4 linked regions of the Homo sapiens genome follow. The protein of the gene in region 2 interacts with the protein of the main gene of each other region in a pairwise test. Each region holds a gene or a part of one and is shown on either strand. Other genes may lie near its edges.

Region 1 (2,896 bases), on a different chromosome or scaffold from region 2:
GCTGAAGCACCCCCGGACTGCAGTGTGAACGTGCTGTGCAATAGTGACACGCTGGGCTTCCCCACAAGGCTCCACCCTGAGGTCTTTTAAGCTGTCCTTATGCCAGCCTATTTCTTGTTTTTTGGGCCTTTTTTTTTGGAGATAGGGTCTCACTCTGTCGCCCAGGCTGGAGTGCAATGACGCAATCTTGGCTTATTGCAGTCTCGACCTCCTGGGCTCAAGAGATCCTTCCACCTCAGCCACCTGAGTAGCTTGGACTACAGGTGTGCACCACCTCTCCCAGTTAATTTTTGTATTTTTAGTAGAGACAGAGTTATGCCATGTTACTCAGGCTGGTCTTGAACTCCTGGACTCAAGCGATCAGCCTGCCTTAGCCTCCCAAAGTGCAGGGGTTACAGGCTTGAGCCATTGCGCCTGACCTATTTCTGGTTCTTAGGGCCCTGGATGTTAGGATGGATTTCTGAATTAATAATAATAATAAAACCCTCATCAAGATGTGATTTGCATAGTTGTCACTTTATATAATATTATTTTCCTTCTGTGACCTTTCCAAGTCTGAAACAGTCCCAGGGACTTCTTTTGGTTAGTTATTTGCAATCACCTGCAGGACACACACACAAGAAAATTGTCAGGTTCACGTAACCACAGAGCTGTGCGTGGCAGTTTCCTGTCTCTGTCCTCCTGGGCTAAGCTACTCAAGTGAGTCACAGGCAGCCCACACTACAGTAGCTCCTGCCTGAGGAGTTCAGATGATGTTTCGGAGAAAAAGATGCAATCACAGCTTTTCATTGACCTGTTAGGGTCTTCCTGTAAAGGGGGTCTTAGCCAGGAGTCCTGTGTGGGCTTCAGGTCAGGGGGCCTTCGAACCCCCTAAAAATTATATGCCAAATGTGCGGATGGCATATTTTTAGATTTCATTTGTTTCTCATCAAAACTGCTGTTTGCAAGGCAGTTATGCACTGTGGTTGGGGCTATAACTGTTTCCAGAGGCTGTTGATCAGTATCTGTTAAACTTTTTTTTTTTTTTTTTGAGACAGTCTTGCTCTGTTGCCCAGACGAGTACAGTGGCATATTCTAGGCTCACTGCAACCTCTGCCTCCCAGGTTCAAGCGATTCTCCTGCCTTAGCCTCCCGAGTAGCTGATATTACAGGTGTGCACCACCATGCCTGGCTGATTTTTTTGCATTTTTAGTAGAGACAGGGTTTCACCATGTTGGCCAGGCTGGTCTCGAACTGCTGACCTCAAGTGATCTACCCGTCTCGGCTTCCCAAAGTGCTCGGATTACAGGCGTGAGCCACCGCGCCCAGCCTGTTAAACATTTTGATATGCCAACTTCATGATCCAGTGCTGTAAACGGCAGGATATCCAGCTGCTACAGCACAAATACTCAAGTGTGCAAGAATTATGTCCAAGGATGTTCATTGCACAATGTAAGAGTGAAAAATAGGAAACATGAAAGCTGCATTCATTACACTCAAACTATGGAATACTATTTAGCTGTTCAAAAGAATGACATGTATGTACTGACATGTAAAATGTGATAAGGTGTTAAGTGAAAAATAGCTGCAGAACAGTATGAAGACTCAGATCCTAGTTTTTGCTTAGAAGACAGTGTCTATGTGTGTGTGTGTGTATATAGATAGATAGATAGATAGATAGATAGATAGATAGATATGCACATAAAGTTGAGAAGACCACACACCAAGCTTTTAACAATGATTGGCAGGGCGAAGTGGCTCACGCTTGTAATCCCAGCACATTGGGAGGCTGAGGTGGGCAGATCACCTGAGGTCAGGAGTTTGAGACCAGCCTGGCCAACATGGTGAAACCCCATCTCTACTAAAAATACAAAAATTAGTTGGGCATGGTGGTGCATGCCTGTAATCCCAGCTAGTTAGGAGGCTGAGGCAGGAGAATTGCTTGAACCCGGGAGGCGCAGGTTGCAGTGAGCTGAGATCAAGCCACTGTACTCCAGCCTGTGCAACAGAGCGAGACTCCATTTGAAAAAAAACAAAACAAAAACAATGATTACCTCTGGAGAGTGGAATTGGAGATGTAAAATGAGGGGGGACTTCTACTTTTTTACTTGATACTCTCCTGTATTCTTTTAATATTTTTACAAAGAGTATGTATTACCTTCTGGAAAAAGAATAAAAACTAAGGATTGCTGGAGTTCATGTGTGACTGTCATTCAACTGACATTTGTTGAAAGGATGAATGCCGCAGGCCACTTGTCTCCTCTGCTTCTCTGCTCTTATCTTTTGCTTGTACTTCCTGACCTTGGCTTGTCACCTGTCTGGGTTTATCCAGGCAGGTGCTCTCAGTCACCCCCAGGGCTCTAGTGGTACGTGACTCCAGGCTGCACACACTGTGTCCCTGGGTTGGGGCCACTTCAAGGTTTCACTAGCCCCTCTGCCGCTGCCAGGGGCAGCCCCCACCCAAGGACAGCTGGTTGCTTGGCTCTCCCCCTTCTGAAACCCGTTACCGGGCATCTGTGCCTGTCCCGACTGCTCTCCCATGAACACAGGGCCTCTGCCCAGCTGCCTCGGGAGGCGTGCTGCCCCGTGGATCCCTGCTGCCATCTGGCCATGCTTTGGGATCTGGCCTGTTCTGTTGTGCTTGTGTCTGTGGCTGGGAACAGCTGATGCTGGGAACAGCTGATGCTGGGACAACAGATCGGGACAATTGCCCCTGCCCCTGCTTCAGGTCCCCAGGATGCTGCCAGGACCAGCTGCACGGTGACTCCCACAGCAGCTGGGGCTGGAAAACGGTCTTAGGATTTGGCTGGGAAAGGCCCCTAAGCAGCCTTTCGTCCAGTCAGTCTCAGGCCAGGCTCCTTTGACGTGCGTGGTGCCTCCAAAGGTGGACTCAGATGGGTTTTTCCCAATTTAGATA
Region 2 (2,556 bases):
CCCAGTGTCTGTTGTTCCCCTCTATGTATCTTTTTTCAGGTGACATGCATCTGGAGAATAGTACACATAGCCTTCAGTGTAAGAAAAAGCAAACCAGAGTTCACTTCACCCTTAGGCACATAAGAAAAGTTCTTTCTTTTTCCTTTCATCACAATGGCAGAGTGAAAGGCAAAAGATGTGTGAGGCTGAGTAGAGACTGAATGTGATTAAGTGTCACTAGACTGGTCAGCTTTCTATCTAAAAGCCATTGCAGCTAATTTCCCAATTCATATTCATGTAGGAACATAAGACAGAAATACCGAACACATGGAAGGGGCTGTTCAGAAGGTGAGATGTTACAGAGAAGTCTACATACCACGCATACCAATCAACCTGAGTGAACAAACATCACTATACCCCTATGAAATTAGATGTATAGAAACTTCCTTAGAGTAGTCTGAAACTTTAGGGTTTGTCAACATTGTTTAACAAAGCCACAATTTAGGAAAAAAAACCAACAATTATATGCATATACTTTTAATGAAGGATATAGGAAGATAAAGCTGGCCAGCATTTGTCAATATTTCTGCACCAAGACACATGGTTTTAAGAATACTATATACAATCATTTTGAGCAGATTGGTGGGAAAAATAATTGTAGCAGATTGGCAACCTATGCTTAACTTCTGAGGTCTCCTTTTCTGGCACTCTAATATAGTTCATATATTACCAAGACCCACTGCCAGCTTTCCTTTTATGTTCCTTCACTGATTAAGCCAGCAGAGTGAAAGTAATTATTCCTTGAATGCATCTTATCTAATTTTTTTTTCCTTTAATGCCATTCCCTACTAACAATCTATTTCCTGGTATATTGAATTCATTGTTGGTTTTAACTCATTCTGCTGATGGCTGTGTACCATCCTGCTACAAAGAACACATTTAATGGTTTTGAACACTGTGCAGGACACAGACCTAACCCTTTTAGGGAAGTAAACAGTCATGGGTTGCATGCTACTAGGAGCCACCCATTCATTATTATATAATACCCGCATGCAAAAGGCTACAATTTAATATGGTACATTACAGCTATGGTTAAAGAAATGCAGATGTACCATACCTCATCAACCAATTCCTAACGAGATGGAACTCATTAATTTTCTAAGAATATGGATCTTGTCCAAGGGCCTGACAATCTCATTAGATGCCCCCTGTGCTTCTCCATAGAACGTCTTCTGTACCGAATCTCTTAGCTACTCTGAGAGCAGAGATTCTGGAATGTATAAATCTAATGTTCTTCACATGCTGTGTTTCTTAGACTCTTTTTCTAAAAGGAGAAAACAGATAATCATTCTTTTAAATTAAAGTATTTGCTCCTGCTGAAGAGGCAGCCTGCTTTGGAGAAAATGTGTATGTGTGTGTGTGTGTGTGTGTGTGTGTGTGTACATGTGCATACATGTATGTAGATATGTGTGATGAGAGGTGAAAAGAATAGGCTTTCAATGACTGTTACATTCCTATGAATTTGGGCCCTGTTAAATTAATTTTAGGTTCATGTTACAATAATGTATAATATTCAGTATTCTTAAAACTTACTTGCTAGGATTGTGCTTAAATCTCCATTAACCTCAATGTCTATACTTTGTGCAATTTGGTATAAACATGGAGTGCATTCTTTACCTTGGCAATGTCTGCCCTGAGATTGGGCTCTATGGTGCCACAGGAGGTAATGGCACTGGTTGATGCCACATAGTGTGAAAAATATGTGTCACATGGGGCTAGTAGGGGAAAGAGGCACATATTGCATTCTTATCACATAGAAAGTAAGAGTTGTACAAATTGCATACTTTTCAGATTTTTGACAAAATGTGACTCTTTCAGAATGTGATCCTGTTGTAATTACTCTCAAAATTCTAACTGCTCCATGATAATTCCAGTCCTGGGAAGCCAAGTTACTTTAACAATGTACTGAACATGGTAACTGTGAGCCCTGCATAAGACAGCTGTGTTCCATTGGGGACCACTTAATCTCTTTTCCCCTTAATTTTTCCAGCTGTACCATGGGGAACAATTTTTTTATTCTGTCTCTTTCTGAGGACGCTGTTGGAGTGAATGGAAGAACATTAACAAAGTGCTCTAAGTCCTGCAAGAACAAATCAGCAATGAGAGCATGGACAAAAGAATGGAGTACATTATTTTGCTTAGAAATACTGTATGGTTAAGCTTTTCATTCCAGTCCTATAATTAAAGACATATAAGAGCACTAGAAAGTGACATAGCACCCTTCAGCAGTAGGATCCTAACAATGAGTATCTTCATTTTGCAAACGGAGAAAATGAGTATCAACAATTAGGGAATGAGATTCCACAGAGGTTATTGGACAGGGATCCAAAGAAAAGCAAGCAAAGAAGCCAGATCAGGGTGTGCTAATTATTAAATAAAGTTCTGTATTCTTGATTAATAATCAACCAGTTGGGTACCTATGTACATTAGTCAATACTCAAATGATCCATGGATAGGGATATTATCAGAGTCTATAAACCAATGAGACCAAAATGCTAAGATAGGAATAGGTTTTCT
Region 3 (3,500 bases), on a different chromosome or scaffold from region 2:
CAGATCATTTGAGGTCAGGAGTTCAAGACCAGCCTGGCCAACATGGTGAAACCCCATCTCTACTAAAAATACAAAAATTAACCGGCTGTGGTGGTGGCCGCCCGTAATCCCATCTACTTAGGAGGCTGAGGCAGGAGAATCACTTGAACCCGGGAGGCAGAGGTTGCAGTGAGCCAAAATCGCGCCACTGCACTCCAGCCTAGGCGACAGAACAAAGCTCTGTCTTAAAAAAAAACAAACAAAAAACAAATAAAAGCTAACCCTATTCCCAGCATTGAGCACAGAGCCTGGCCCAGAGCCGGGATGTAGTATCTGGCTGTTAGAGACTGAATTCCTTCAAACCATTGACCAATTAACAACGGCTGTCGCTTGAAGTAGGGCTAGCAAATTAAAAATAACAGAATGCTTTTGTTTCCTCTTGTGTTTTCCCCTCCAATTGTTTCACCTTCACTCACTTTTTGCACTTGGTAAGATTTCTTCTTGCATGTCTGCACACTGCAGACTTCTCCAGCACAAAACAAAGAATTACAACATCCTCCTTACCGGCTGCCACTGATTACTTGATTAAATCGTCACCTCTAATTTACCCTGAGCACCTGCAAAGTTCTTCTCCATGCACCAGATAGTCTTCAGGGTCGGAATTACATATTCTCTGCAGCCTTCTCAAGAGCTTCACTCCAACATCAGTGTCTCCACCCCTCCCTCTCATCCTCAGGACTGGATTTTTTTTTTTTTTTAAGACAGAGTCTCGCTCTGTCGCCCAGGCTGGAGTGCAGTGGCGCGATCTCGGCTCACTGCAAGCTCTGCCTCCTGCGTTCACACCATTCTCCTGCCTCAGCCTCCCGAGTAGCTGGGACTATAGGCACCCGCCACCATGCCTGGCTAATTTTTCGTATTTTTAGTAGAGACGGGGTTTCACCGTCTTAAGATGGTCTCAATCTCTTGACCTCGTGATCCACCTGCCTCGGCCTCCCAAAGTGCTTAGATTACAGGCGTGAGCCACCGCACCTGGCCAGGACTGGATTTATTCCATCCAAACCCAAACACTTTCTTACTCTCTGTTTTTTTTCAGACAGGGTCTCATCTTGTGTTGCCCAAGGTGGAGTACAGTGGCATGATCACAGTTTACTGCAGTCTCTACCTCCTGGGCTCAAGCGATCCTCCTGCCTCAGCCTCCCAGGAAGCTGGGACTACAGGCGTGGGCCAACACGCCAAGTTAATTTTTAAATTTTTTTGTAGAGATGGGATCTCGCAGCCGGGGGCGGTGGCTCACGCCTGTAATTGTAGCACTTTGGGAGGCTGCGGGGGCAGATCACTTGAGCCCAGGAGTTCAAGACCAGCCTGGGCAACACGGCAAAACCCCATCTCTACAAAAAATACAAAAATTAGCTGGGCATGGTGGTGTGCACCTGTGGTCCCAGCTACGTGGGAGGCTGAGGTGGGGGAGGTCAACACTGTAGTGAGCTGAGATTGTGCCACTGCACTCTAGCCTGGGAGCCACAGAGCAAGACTCCGTCTCAAAAAAAAAAAAAAAAAAAAAAGGCTGGGCTGGGCTCAGTGGCCCATGCCTGTAATCTCAGCACTTTGGGAGGCTGAGGCGGGCAGATCACCTGAGGTCAGGAGTTCGAGACGAGGCTGACCAACACGGAGAAACCCCGTCTCTACTAAAAACACAAAATTACCCAGGCGTGGCAGTGCATGCCTGTAATCCCAGCTACTCGGGAGGCTGAGGCAGGAGAACTGCTTGAACCCGGAAGGCAGAGGTTGCAGTGAGCCAAGATCACGCCATTGCACTCCAGCCTGGGCAACAAGAGCAAAACTCCATCTCAAAAAAAAAAAAAGGGCAGAAAAGAGATGAGGTCTTGCTATGTTGTCCAGGCTGGTCTCGAACTCCTGAGCTCAAGTGATTTCCCCTCCAGCCTCAGCTTCCCAAGACTTTGAGATTAGGGTCTGAGTCACCTTGCCTGGCCATACCCAAACTCTTTCTAGTAACTTTCATCTTGGCTGGGCGCGGTGGCTCACGCCTGTAATCCCAGCACTTTGGGAGGCCGAGGCGGGCAGATCACGAGGTCAGGAGATCGAGACCATCCTGGTTAACACGGTGAAACCCCATCTCTACTACAAATACAAAAATTAGCCGGGCGTGGTGGTGGGCGCCTGTAGTCCCAGCTACTCGGGAGGCTGAGGCAGGAGAATGGCTTGAACCCGGGAGGCGGAGCTTGCAGTGAGCCAAGATCGGCCACTGCACTCCAGCCTGGGCGACAGAGTGAGACTCTGTCCCAAAAACAACAACAACAACAACAACAAAAAACCTTTCATCTTAAAAGTAACCACTGGCTGGGCGGGTGGCTCACACCTGTAATGCCAGTACTTTGGGAGGCCGAGGCGGGTGGATCACCTGAGCTCAGGAGTTTTGAGACCAGCCTGACCAACATGGCAAAACCCCGTCTCTACTAAAAATACAAAAATTAGCTGGGTGTGGTGGCGGGTGCCTGTAATCCCAGCTACTCGGGAAGCTGAGGCAGGAAATCATTTGAACCCGGGAGGCAGAGTTTGCAGTGAGCCGAGATCACACCAAAAAAAAAAAAAAAGAGAGAGAAAAGAAAACTCATGACCCAAAGTTGTAACTCATGGGTTAACAGGATGAAATGCAGAGTAGGGAAGGGCATGGTAAGCAGCTGGAATAGCATGTGCAAATGTGCAGAGGCCTCCAAGGAATGCTAAAGGAGGGCTGGTCCTCACCAGCAGCCTGGCAGGCATAGGCGAAGACGATGATGTCGTCGAAAGGCCAAGTGTAGTTGGGATGTGGCGGGTAGAAAGCAAGCTGGTCTGCCCCTTCAGCCCGCAGGGATGCAAGGAAGGTGGAGTGGACCATGGGGACACGGAAGCAGCCCCGGCGCTGGCGGTTCTTGGTGGGGAAGTACTCGGCTGTGCGGCGGTAGTAGCCCTGGGGAAAAGGGATGCTTTGGGCTGTGAGAGGGCTCCCCTGCCCCTGCCCACAGACCCCAAGGCCTCAGGCTCTCTGCTCTCCACGTCCCTCCTTCCAGGACCTCAGTCCACCCAAGGCCCCCATCCCGGCCTCACCTGGGGGGTGATCCCACACCAGAAGTTGGAGTAGTAGGTCTGGGAGTCCAGCATTGGGGCCACCACTGGAAGCCCCTGCCCCATGAGAAGCCGCAGAGTCTGATTGTTGGTCAGAATGTTGTCTGTGTCTGCAAACTTTGAGGAGGGGACGTCACAGGCTCCAGCCCTGCCTGGGCTGCAGCCCCCCAAGGAGTTCACTGAGTGGTCCTGCCAGAGACCCAGCGTGGCTCCTAGGATCCAGTGGGAATGCTCTTACAGAGGTCTCACAAACTCAGTACATCTGTTTCTGGACCAAGGCTCTAGTCTGGGGCACTGACTCAGGGACTGGGTCCAGAGATTATACCTGAGTTACTGATCTAAGACCTTTATCTGGGATCTGGCTTAGAAAATGGATCCAAACACCTACTCTGAGCTCT
Region 4 (3,500 bases), on a different chromosome or scaffold from region 2:
AGAAAACCAAATACCACAAAACACACTTTCTCACTTATAAATCTAAGCTAAACAAGAGGTACACATGGATATGAAGATGAAAATAATAGACACTGGGGATTCCAAAAGAGGGGAGGGGGTGAGGGTTAAAAAATTACCCATCGGGTACAATGTTCACTACTTGGGTGATGGGTACACTAGAAGCCCAATCTCCACCAATATGCAATATACCCATGTAACAAACATGCACATGTACTCCCTGAATCTAAAATAAAATAAAATTTAAAAACAAACAAAAATCTTGGGAAATAATAAATAACTAGGAAAGGTTATCAATAAAGTAGAAGGAGCAGATAATTGGTAGATCAAGGTCCTGAAAAGGTGGGAATCCAAAAACACTATATGTGACTTTCCTAAATCCAGGTGGACCTTGCTGTATGTACGAAATGTGATCTCAAAGTATTGTGACTGGATTAAATAATGTATAAGCCCTCCTGTAGGCTTATATGAGTTGATTCCTCTAATCAAGGTTTTCATTGAGGAAATCCCCTTGATATCTACTAGGAACCTATGATAACTCGGAGAAATAAGGAATGCTTTGGTAATATAAATAAGTTAATTGTTAACATGTCTGCTCTGGTTAAGGTTTTATAATGTTGTATTTTCAAGAGTAAAGAACAAGGCTATGGCCTTCCTCTGCCCCTCTAAAACCAACTTATGAAAGTCAGTCAATCTTGAGGATGGACTCCCCTACCCCTAGAAGGCTCATTCTAGCAGTTTTGTGGGAAGTGGACAAGACTGGGGTGAGGGGCCAGTTGGAGGGATGATTCTCTTTCTAATAGTCCATGGAAAAAACTAAAGAGGTGGTGAGAAAAGCAGTGGTGAGAATGGAAAGAAAGGGAAGAAACCATTCTGATATGGACTCAGCTTCCTGTCCTCTGACCCATACAAAACCTGCTGTTTTGGTTACTATAGCCTTGTAGTATAATTTGACGTCAGGCAATGTGATGCCTCTGGATTTGTTCTTTGCATAGGATTGCTTTGGCTATTCAGGTTCTCTTTTGGTTCCATGTGAACTTTAGCATTGTTTTTTCTTTTTTTAGCATTGTTTTTTCCAATACTGTGAAAAACGATGTTGCTAATTTGATAGGGATTGTGTTAAATCTGTGCCTGAATGCACACATGTGTACACACATATTTGTGTGCTGTCCTGAAGGCGTGTGTCTCTAGCGACTGGCTAGCTACTGACCCAAGCCATTTCTTCTTCCTCCTAGGCATACAGCTATATTAATTCCCAGCCTCCCTTGCAGTTAGGTGTGTCCCTATGACTGAGTAGAATGTGAGAGGAAGTGACGAATGCCATGTGTAGGCTTGATTCATAAAGATGTACCATTTCTCCCTGCTCTTTCCCCTTTCATGGAGGCTGGTGGAGCCCTGTGTTGAAGATAGTGACACCACAAGTTGGGAAGAGCCTTGGTCCCTGAATCACTGAATCACTGCCTTGAATCACCGCCTGGAATACCTGTTGATCAGGAACACTTACCTGGAACTTCACTGAGCAGGATACAAACTTCTATTGTATTAAGCTATTAATACATTAAGATTTGGGGGTGCTACCTTACATAATAAATTCCCATTTCCTCTTGGCTTTGATCCACAGGTTCTCAAGTAGCCAGAGTAGGATAAGTCAACACCCTTTTCAGCACCAACAATATCCTGAGCCTTAGACTACTATCCAGGCTCTGGGTGACCAGAGATCTGCTTCTCTCCCTGGAGAGTGTTTGTGGAGGAGCAACTCTGAGGAGTTGCTAAAGGATGATATCAGACACATTTTATATGGCAGAGCCTTAGTCTCCCAGACCTACATAGAGTACATATATTACAGACTCATCTGAAGTTGGTGAAGAGCCGGATTTAAGGCAAGGCAGGGTCTCCTGGTTTTCTCCATTCATGGTGGCTTGAGTGTGAAGTGCCAGGAAGCCCTAGTGGAAAGATGGCCCACTGACCTGGGGGCAGGAGACCTGACCCTGGGCCACATGGCCCTGGGAAAGTCTTCCCTTCTCTGCACCTCCATTTCTTCAACTGGAAACTAAGAAACTGGAACTACATCATTGCTCAAGCCCCTTTCATCTCTGACATTCTAGAGGCTTTATCAGGGATTATGAATGCAAATGTTTACAGGGGCTGAGCAATAAGTGGGCCAGGTGGGGCCTGGGGCTAATTAGAAAACTGGTGCCCCATCTCAAGGAGACAGATGACTATTGCCACGTGGGAATGTATACCCAGGTTGCCAGCACTTCTGGTGTCTCAAAAGAAGCCAGAAATCTAGATCTTTTTAACATCAAATATTCTGATTTTTGAATATTTCCAATACATTTTTAAAATGTATAAGCACTCAACAGACTAAGTAAGGCACACCCATGGACCAGACTCATTTCTAGAGCTGCTAGTTTAAGACCTCTAAATAAAGAATCCCATGGCTGGGGCCCCTTGGGCAAGAGCTAAGCCAGGCTCCAGGCCACTGGCCAGCTACTAAGTTTTCAGAAAGCTGGTGGGGTTTTCAGCAGAGATCCGTGATGCTCTGAAATCCTACCAGAGGATATCAAAATATGTGCACAACTCTCTCTGAAGCTGCAGTTTCTGTGTTTCCCCTGGGTGTCTCCCAGGGGGTTCTTAACTGACCCAGAGACCTGAGCCTCTCTCCACTTCTCACCTTCCTCAACCCTGCCCCTCTCTCCCATTGCCACCCCTGGCTCACTGGCAGCAGAGTGAAGACAGGGCCGAGAAGCATTTCATAAGGAAGAAAATCAGTGGTGAGACCCATGGGTACCAATTTTCAAACTGCAGTATGAGAAGGAGGGGGAGTCTGCCTGGAGAGTGGGTACCACAGGTCACACATTTGGCTCCTGTTCACCTGACAGTCAACTAGCTGGGGTGCAGAGGAACAAGCTCTAGAGTGCAAATGAGCTCCTGGTCCAGTCTGCCCAAGTCCAACAGGAGTGCCCCCCTGGCGCCATCTTCATCCTCATTAAAAACCATCTCATTCCATAGGATGCATGTGAGGCATCGAGAATTAGGAGGTTCCGCTGATGCCAGCACTCTGCTTCCTGGCTGGGGTGTGAAGGAGGAGTGAGGATCATGAGTCACAGACAGCCAGGTCAGGCCTAAGGATAAAACACCAGCCACAAGACCTCCCTTCTTCTCAGCCTGTACCAGTGCTCAAGCCTGACCCAGTTGTCTACTCATCATTAATTCCATGCCTCAAAGATCAAACCTCCAAACACCCTGCTTGAATAACGCTACTTGGATGCATTTAAAAATCTCTTAGAGACCAAACCCCACCACTTGGAGAAGCCCCTCCCAGCCAGGCACTTCCCAGTTGTCCTTGGCCATCTGGACTATTTCCCAGGGCAGACCCTGCTCCCAGTGACACACATTCACAGAGGTTTGCTGCTCAGAAAATGGGCTCATTGCAGCTCTCCAAATGAGGTCAGTGTATCACTCAGGAGGCTCCATCCCTC

What was found. Proteins that work in one complex are often made in the same cells at the same time.
Region 1: the proteins of ZDHHC15 (region 2) and CELA2B interact in binary tests that used the Homo sapiens proteins (3 or more experiments, as listed by UniProt).
Region 3: the proteins of ZDHHC15 (region 2) and CERCAM interact in binary tests that used the Homo sapiens proteins (3 or more experiments, as listed by UniProt).
Region 4: the proteins of ZDHHC15 (region 2) and GOLGA7B interact in binary tests that used the Homo sapiens proteins (3 or more experiments, as listed by UniProt).

What each region holds. Positions count from the first base shown.
Region 1 is NC_000001.11:15,489,000-15,491,895, reverse strand, and holds the end of CELA2B (chymotrypsin-like elastase family member 2B preproprotein), read right to left. Parts: intron 602-2,896; coding exon 584-601; 3' UTR 501-583; downstream 1-500. UniProt on the Homo sapiens protein: Acts upon elastin.
Region 2 is NC_000023.11:75,367,927-75,370,482, forward strand, and holds the end of ZDHHC15 (palmitoyltransferase ZDHHC15), read right to left. Parts: 3' UTR 501-2,556; downstream 1-500. UniProt on the Homo sapiens protein: Palmitoyltransferase that catalyzes the addition of palmitate onto various protein substrates.
Region 3 is NC_000009.12:128,423,857-128,427,356, reverse strand, and holds part of CERCAM (inactive glycosyltransferase 25 family member 3 isoform a precursor), read right to left. Parts: intron 3,220-3,500; coding exon 3,085-3,219; intron 2,948-3,084; coding exon 2,743-2,947; intron 1-2,742. UniProt on the Homo sapiens protein: Probable cell adhesion protein involved in leukocyte transmigration across the blood-brain barrier. Does not express any beta-galactosyltransferase activity in vitro.
Region 4 is NC_000010.11:97,852,843-97,856,342, reverse strand, and holds part of GOLGA7B (golgin subfamily A member 7B), read right to left. Parts: intron 1-3,500.